Linked DNA regions of Homo sapiens: region 1 is linked to region 2. Evidence: fine-mapped expression QTL. A gene starts in region 2. The other region holds a variant in brackets. All regions are shown on one strand. Distances are from middle to middle.

Region 1 (4,000 bases), 39 kb after region 2:
TTCAAGTTTTACTTGATGATACATTTGGTTAAAATGTGCAGGAAAAACAACCCTTTCTAGATGAGTAGAATCTTTGATTTTCTGTCGTACAAAACATCAATACCAAGAAGTTGAATGATCCTCTGTCATCTGGCCTAAGTTCCTTTTTTTCTCAGCAGATTTACCTTTTTAAAACAGTTTTTCTCCCTAAAATTTCTATTACATTTTTTAATAAAATAGGACTTATACTGTACATATATACAATTTTACATTTCTTTTTTCCCTTAACCCTAAAACATAGTGTTTATTATATTATTAAATATTCTCCAGAAACATGATTTTTAATGGCCATATAATAGTTCATTGTATGCATTTGCCATCCTGTGTTTAATCATTCCCCTATTGTTAGTTTCAGTTCGATATCTTTTTTCTCTCCTCATAGTTGATCTTTCCCTCTGAGGTACCAACCCTGCTTGGTCCAGCTCTCATCAGTTCTCCATCTGCACCATCAGTCTGGTCCTCCCATGTCAACAGCTCATCCCTTCAGTCAAGTTACCAGTAAAGTAATGCTGTCCTGATCCATTTTGCTTTTAGTAAAAGCTTCTTTTCTCCAAGTGATTGCAGTTGCCACTACCAGTCTGATCCACCCTTCTGATCATAGCACAATACAGAAAACATGCCTGGTTTCTTGGTTTTCAAAGTGATTCACCCTTGAGCTATTTTAATTATGGGGGGCAACCTTGGGGCATTTATATCTTTGTTTAGGATCATTAATGGTGACAGCTTAATAATGCATGAAAGCACCTTGGAAACATTAAAATATACCAGCAAATGAGAGGATAAAGGTATTAGGGGAGGCCAGAAAAATTAGAAAGATAAATATTTTGAACAAAATAAATGTAAGCATCTTTATTATAAATGCTCAAGCACACACATGCTAACACTCAGTGGAAACTAATTTGCTTCTCTGAAATTTGGTCATGCAAGGAAAGGAGTCAGCACTCTTTCCTTTGTTGCATAAAGAAAAGGGTACTTGTGCCTCTGAAACATGAACCTATTAAAAATTATATTTTAGAGCAGGAGAGGCCTTTTTTCCCCCTGTGATCTCTTTCATGTATTTGTCTTCTGGGCAAATAGATGGGCAGGGAGAAATATCTCTTCAGATTATAGAATAAATGGTTAGTTTTATTTAGAGATTGAACCCTTTATCTTATTTCATATTTATTGTCTATCACCTGGCCTATTAGTACATGAATATAAACTATTTTGTCAATCAGTATTTCAAATTCTTAAGTATTTGTGATTCTCTGGAATTCCATTCTGTGTCTATGAAAATTGTTCAGCATTAGTAAAATTCTAATTGCCAGTTGAACAGTGTCATCCTTTTGAGTTTCTCCAGGACTGTCCTGCTGCTCTGTGATACCTCCCCTATTGCCTTCAGAAACTAGACCTAGCTGAGCCTTTTTTCTTTGTATGCCCTTTTGCTGTATCGTATTATAAACTTGTATCAAATTTTGTCTTCTGCTTTCCCTGTTTCTTTCAGCCTTCCCTTGCCCAAGGCTTTATCGGGATGTTTGTTATATCTCTGTGCCCCTGATCCTCTAGAAGTTGATTCATTCTTATCTGTCTAGATTTCTTGCATGTCTACTCTCTCTGTCTGGATTGGTTTGGCAGCAACCCCACTTATGTGCTCTCACATGTAGGTTTCATTAGCATGCTCTTTTCTTCCGCTCGCAACTTGTCAATCAAGATGGAATCTGACAGCATTGGTAATTTTAGTAGTTATTTCTTTCCTAGCTTACCCTCCCGCCTCCACCTCCAGCATGACTTAGTTTTGGTTAGCTGATTAGAATGTAGTTTCACACCAGTGTTTTTTGTTTAGCAGGTAGTTATCTGAGGATTTCTACTGTGTGATCCTCCAGCATGGCTCTGTTTGGGAATTTTTCCTAAAGAATATTATTAACTGGTCTGCAGTATCAGGGAAGCCAGTAAAGTTGCTGGTCTTCAGTTTCCTTATCTGTTAACTAGAGATAAAAAAAACTCTACCTCACTTGGTTATAGAGATTCAGTTAAATAAAAGTATCTGTGCCTATAATACCAGCACTTTGGGAGGCCGAGGCAGGCGGATCACGAGGTCAGGAGATCGAG[G/A]CCATCCTGGCTAACATGGTGAAACCCCATCTCTACTAAACATACAAAAAATGGTGGCACACACCGGTAGTCCCAGCTACTCGGGACGCTGAGGCAGGAGAATGGTGTGAACCCGGGAGGCGGAGGTTGCAGTGAGCCGAGATCATGCCACTGCACTCCAGCCTGGGCGACAGAGCGAGACTCCGTCTCAAAAAATAATAATAATAAAAATAAATAAATAAAAGTATCTGTGTATCCCCAGCCCAGTCTTTTCTTACTAATAGGAATTCCTTCTTCATTAATGTCTACCAATTCTGTGCATTTTTGACATCTTTATTAAGATATAATTCACATACCATACAATTCACCCAAGTGCGCAATTCTCTGGTTTTTAATAAAGTCACAGTTGTGCAACCATTACCGCAATCAATTTTAGAATATTTTCATCACCCAAAAGAAACCCCATATCCTTTAGCCATCGTTTTCCATTTCCTAGGCAACTGCTAATCTACTTTCTGTAATTTTATGCATTTTAACTTCATGCTTAATGTTATATTGTGTGCTAACAGGATTTTCATTTTTCTTTTGGCACAGGGAAGGTATTTTGAAATGCAATTCTATAATTTTTAGAGCTACAAAGAGCCCTTTATCATTTAATGCTATTTTTTCACAAGAAAACAAGAGGACCAGAGAAGTTAAGTGATTCACCCAGAGATATTCCTATTCCACACCTCTACCAAACACACTGACAAAAAGTGTCTCATTCACGCTTATTTAACTAATACTTATTTATGAGTGTTTGCTAAAACCCTTTCAAACTCAAATTCTGGATGTGGGATATGATTGTTTGAATTATCTGCTTTAACCAAACTAGTTCTTTCAGTATTCTGTGACTATTTCTTGGCCTTTTCTTTTTGTCTATATCCTTTTCATATATAAAGAATCTTAGCCAAAGTTTATTCAGTGTATTATTTTCTCTTCTGATTTGCTTTAGAAAAGTCATTACTCTATAATCAACCATAGAATTTTGTACATAATCTACCCAGTTTTCATGTGTGTTCTGTGGCATATCTGAGGTTTCTACCTCATTTAATCTACCAATTTTTTCCCACCCTCTCCCTCTTTTTAACATGATTTTTGCCATTCCTTCCATCTATAAATGAAGATGATTTCTCTACTCCCTTAAATATGGGCCGACTTTGTGACTTGCTTTGACCAATTTCCATTGGCAGAAAGGACAACATCAGGCAAATTTCAAGCTTAGGCCCCAAGAGTCCTTGCAGCTTTTGCCGTTGCCCTTTTTGAATGCTCTCTGGGAGCTTCATATAAGAAAGCCACTCTAGCTTAAGGGAGGAGGACAGAGGCCTTGTGGAGCACAGAGGAGCTCTAGCTGGCAGCTGGCACTAACTGCTAGACATAGCAGTGAGGCCAGCATGGATCTTCCAGCCCTTCTGACACTAGCCAAATGTAGATGCATGAGTCCAGATGAGAGCAGCAGCGGAATTACCTAACCAACGCACAGAAACGTGAGGAATAAAAATCCATGTAGTTTTGAGCCACCAAATTTGGGATGGTTTGTTATTCAGTAAAAGCTAACTTATATGCGTAGGTATCAGTATTGCGGCAACCTTGAGATGATTAAAGAGTATAATCCATGTAAAGTGTTTGGCTTACTGCCAAACATATAGTGTCCCTCAGTAGAGGTTAACTGCTGTATTATTATCATTATCATTGTTGTTTTGGTTATAATGGTCGCTTCTCCCTCCTCCTCTAGATCTAATGCCATTGCTCTTTAATATTATTAACTTTGATGAATTAAATAATTGGATGTCCTTAGTGGTAATTGGTATTTTCCTTCCTAATTAGTAAGTAGTCTAAAACTTTAAAAAGTTTT
Region 2 (4,493 bases):
TCTGTTGTTTAAGAGGTCATAATCTCTTTCGGATTAAGGTGATACAAAAATAATAACACAGAGAAGCTGAAGCATCATGGAGAGGCACACAAGGAATGCTTATTGAGGTCTGAATTTTTAAAAGACTGGACACGTCTTTAAAATACATTTGGTGTTCGTTAAAATAATCTAGTGTGATAACCTCTGGAAATCACATTATTTTAAATGGAGGGAACTAGCCTTCTTTAATTTTTTTTTTAAAAAGCAGTTGGAAAACTTGAAGACAGGGACTTACTTACCTTTCCACATGTCTCTGTCAGGAACCAGTTTTCTAGGAAGGGTGGCAGAAATGAGCTTCATATGTTTCTGGAATGCAAGAATGTAGAAAGGGGGGTGGAGGTTCAAAGTCCAGGTAGCCCTCTGTGAGAACGCAGGAATCAAATCAGGACAAACAAAAGAAGGGTGAAGTGGGTAGGGCAACGGAGTTTCGGGATTGACTGGAATGAGAGTTAAGGTGATAATGCTGGGGTGGAAATGAAAGTCAGACCCCTCCTTACGGACTGGGAAGAAAGGAGCCCTCCTAGTAAAGTTGAAAAGACCAAGTGTCCTCTTCTCCATTTCACCGGGGAAACGCTCCTGTGCCTAGTCGTAAGGTACAGGAGAGTCTATGGAGCCCATGGAGAGTCTAATGCAAAAACTAGTTTCCGACCAAACTTTGCCTTGGCCACTGAGCATGCTCAGCTTTGTCTTCTATAGAAAAGTGAACTCCGTGGCTCCAGATTTTAGCTATAGCAGCTGGAGGGCGGGAGTGAGTGTGGGAGAGCCAGCGTGGCAGCGGCCGCAGGTGGAAACCTGGAGTTTGAGTATGCTTGAAAGGGAAAGTGTGGAACGAAGGGGCGGCCGGGTGGGGAATCAGAGAAGCCCCCAAGGAAATGATTCATCATTGTGATTGACCTTGACTTTAGCAACCCTTCATTAAAGGAGAAAATTTGGTTATTCGGAGATGGGGACTGTGTTGCAAACAGTTACAGGCAAAGAGGGGCAGTTCAGGATTCCGGCCGTGGTCCGCAGGAATGAGTCGGGGCGAGGGAATGGTTGTTATAACCCAATAGTGAGCCTCCCCGGTCATCCGGGCTGGACGGGACTGGGGTTGTAGCAGAAAAGCAGGAGCTGTATGGAGGATGCTCACCTGGCAGCCTCGATCTGCCCCTCTTCCCTCGCTCCTCCCTCCGCACCAGCCACAGCTAGTTGTCAGGGGCCAACATCTGGGCCGGGCTGGAACTGGCTCAGAAACTCGCGTTTGCCTGCTTATTTCTGCAGCTGGGCTCCTTGCCAGGTGCAACCACATCTATGAGAATCTCGCAGACTCTCAGACTCCTATGCCTTTGCTGGTACAGGGAGGAGGATTTACTATCACTCACTGCATAAACCATGATCACCAGAGATGTGCTCCCAAGTTACAAAGCCTGCAGGCGGTGCCCGAGGACCAGAGGGCCGGGCGCGGCCAGCTCACACTTCTGGGGCAGCCGTGAGCAGCGGGCACACGGGCAGCCACGAAAGCAGCAGCGAGGGTGGTGCAAACACCTCAAAACTACACCGAATCCAGTAGCGCCTGGCGCCCCCGGCGCGCAAGGTACGCTTTGGGGCGGTCCTGTGTGACCCCGGAAGAGAAAGTTGTTTTGGGGAAGGGGAGCAAGGAGAGGAGTGCGAGTTAAATAAAACTAAATATCAAAGTTGTTCTGCTCTGCTCAGGCCGCCTCTACTCCGCCTCATCTTTGTCCCAAGTCCTTTCACAGTCTGCCTTCCTCAAACGGCCCGATGCGCCCCCGTCTTTGCCGGAGTAAGCAGACCGCCAGCAGCCGGCCCGCAGGTCAGTCGACCCTCTCTGGATGCAGGTCGCCGGGAAAACCCGGAGCGGAGCATCCCTCGGGCCGGGAAACGCCCTCGGCGCGCACCCACTGGCGCGCATGCTCAGTCCGCGCGGCGGCTGCGAGTAGGAAGCTCCGCGCGGCGGCGGGGGCGGCGACGGCGACTGGCGGGTGGGAGTGGAGGCACCGGCTGGCGGGCGGGGGTACAGGGACGGGGCAGGGGCTCCCGCTCCAGGTTCCTTGAAGCACTTCCGACCGCGAAGCCCGGCGCGAGAAGCGAGCTAACCCAAGAGCCAACAACGAGCGCGGAGAGGGCAGCGGACTGAGCGGAGCCGCCGGCCAGAGCGGGCTCGGAGCCCGGGTCTCCGCCGCTCGGGACCCGGCTAGGCGGCGGCGGGGGCGGCGATGTTCCACTGCATCCCCCTGTGGCGGTGCAACCGTCATGTGGAGAGCATCGACAAGCGCCACTGCTCGCTGGTCTACGTCCCCGAGGAGATCTACCGCTATGCCCGGAGCCTGGAGGAGCTGCTGCTGGACGCCAACCAGCTCCGCGAGCTGCCCGAGGTAAGGGTCCGGCCTCACCTGAGCGCTCTGCCCGCTCGTCTGCTGTCCCTTCCGCTCCCATCCTCTCTCGTCCCCTCTTCCATCTCCGGGTCCGGCGTGAAGGAACCTTCCCTCTTTTATGCATTCACCTGCTTCTTTCTCCCCCTGTCTCTTTACTTCCATCCTTTCCCAGTAAAAGTTCCTTTTCATTTTATTCAAAGTGACCGGATATTTTGCGCGTAGTCACTGGGGCTCGTGCTATTGGAGAAGCGTTCTGGACTGTTAAGTAACTTAGATCCATGCTAGGTACTGACACCTGGCACTTGTGCCCGGTCAGGTGAGAAGCCGGGTGATTCGGGCTGTTTCCATCTGGAAGCTACAGAGCACTGCATCCTCCCCCCCTCCACTCCCCGGGGTCGTTCCCCCACCAAGGGCCGGGCGCGCCTCTCCTTTAGTCAAGGCATGTCCCGGAGGACCTTGTGACCTGGGCAGCGCTCAAGCGGGCCGCACTATCTCGGCATCTTGGGAGGAATGAGGAATGTGCTCCGTGCTTTATCGCGGGTGGGCTTGGCCGGCTGGCCTGCGGTGGCTGCGGGGGTGGACGCGAGATGGGCGCAGGGGAGAGCTGGGCCTGGAGCGCTAGGGGCAGGTGCCCAGATGCCGGCCGCCCGGGCCTTGCCTACGTGGACCTGTTGCGTGGTGGGAGCTGCGGTGAACGTCAGCGGAGGCTCTGCCCGCGGGCCAGCCTTGCAGCCGCCTTTCCCGGAGCGGGCACAGTCGTCCTGCTGACTTTCTCTCCTTGCAGTGATGCGTTATCTCTTCAGAGTTGTTTATGTAAATTGATCACTCCATTGCCGCCGAACTTGTCAAGCGACATGTGCTGATGGTGCTTTGACCGAGAGTAGGGGTACAGCGAACTTCTTTCAAGCTTGCCTCGGGAACTTAGCTAGAGTAACCCCTCGGGGAAGGTGTCTCAAACCCAGGTGTGTGCAGGAAGTCGGTGTGCAATAATCCAAAGGTGTGCAGGAAGTAGGGAGACTGCTGGCAGTCGGGGATTGGACCTGTTTTAGGCCTGAGCTTTGGAACGCAAACTTCTTGTTGCCCTTTAGTTAACACAAGCCAAATCATTGTCACAGAAACACTAGTCAAGTGTTCTGACTTGTTAGAATGACCTGATACGTTCTCCAGCGCTGATGGAGCATTTAAACAATAAGAACTGTGTGTTTTTCTCAATATTTTAAGTGGTGGTGTTCTTCTTGGATTAACTTTCCTGGGTTCATGTGGAATTGATTGGATGTTTGCTCTGTGTAATCATGGAGATTATCCTCACTAGGACCTTTGCAAAGCCCCCCAGGCTTTATTTAGCTTAGAAGCAGCAAAGCCATCAAGTTCCCTCAGGCGTTTATTATTTCGCAGGCATTTTCAAACACATGATTTTTTTCTGGCCTTTTACGTCCTTGAAGATTTCTTACCAGTCGTCAGCTCCCTCACTGCTTTAAGTTGTGTAATTTTAGGCAGTGATATCACCAGGAATATAGAATATGTAATTTAATAGTTTTCAGGGGCTTCAGGATGACATTATTGAAGATGGAGTGAAAAGTTATTCACTAGAAATGATTCATTGCTCTTTGTGGTATTTGTTTTTTTGTTTTCTTTTGTAGAACTGGAAGATTTCCTTTGACTGGATTGGCTTTTCACTCCCTTCTGCAGGGTTTGTGGGTTTTCCTGTAATGTTGGGGAATTCAGCTTGGCATGGGAAATTACATAATTTCCCATGCCAAGCCGAAATGTCAGGTCTTTCTGTGATCCTAAATGGAAACTTGTCAGAATCTCAAAATATAGTCTGATGGCACTCTGTAAATATGGTAAATAAACAAGCTTTTCAAAGGTTACAGGTGATCTTGCTAATGGATTATTATTGCTCTAACAGCTGTTAAATTAGTATTAAAGTTTTTAGGTTGTGTAAAATCTACTTCTCCCTGACTTATTGTGTGTCTTGGTGCCTGGGTGTGTACATGCCAGACATGAGAACCACCTTGCAAACATAGATATCTGTTCCATCCCTTCCATTCTTTCCTTGGGCTATCTGTTGTCTCACCTCTG

The links.
Region 1: its variant is fine-mapped to the expression of LRRC1 in lymphoblastoid cells (GTEx, PIP 0.94).

Annotation. Positions count from the first base shown.
Region 1 is chr6:53,832,646-53,836,645 of GRCh38, forward strand. All of the region lies in intron 1 of LRRC1 (leucine rich repeat containing 1), which reads left to right. Among named protein-coding and RNA genes, the nearest start is that of LRRC1, 40 kb to the left of the region's middle. The variant G/A (reference allele first, on the strand shown) is at 2,128.
Region 2 is chr6:53,793,005-53,797,497 of GRCh38, forward strand. It overlaps LRRC1 (leucine rich repeat containing 1), which reads left to right and starts at 2,001. Exons shown (of 14, transcript NM_018214.5): 1 at 2,001-2,411. The coding sequence starts at 2,253. It overlaps LOC124901333 (a long non-coding RNA gene), which reads right to left and starts at 671. Exons shown (of 5, transcript XR_007059619.1): 1 at 537-671; 2 at 279-345. RefSeq lists silencers at 692-821, 1,867-2,106 and an enhancer at 2,073-2,785.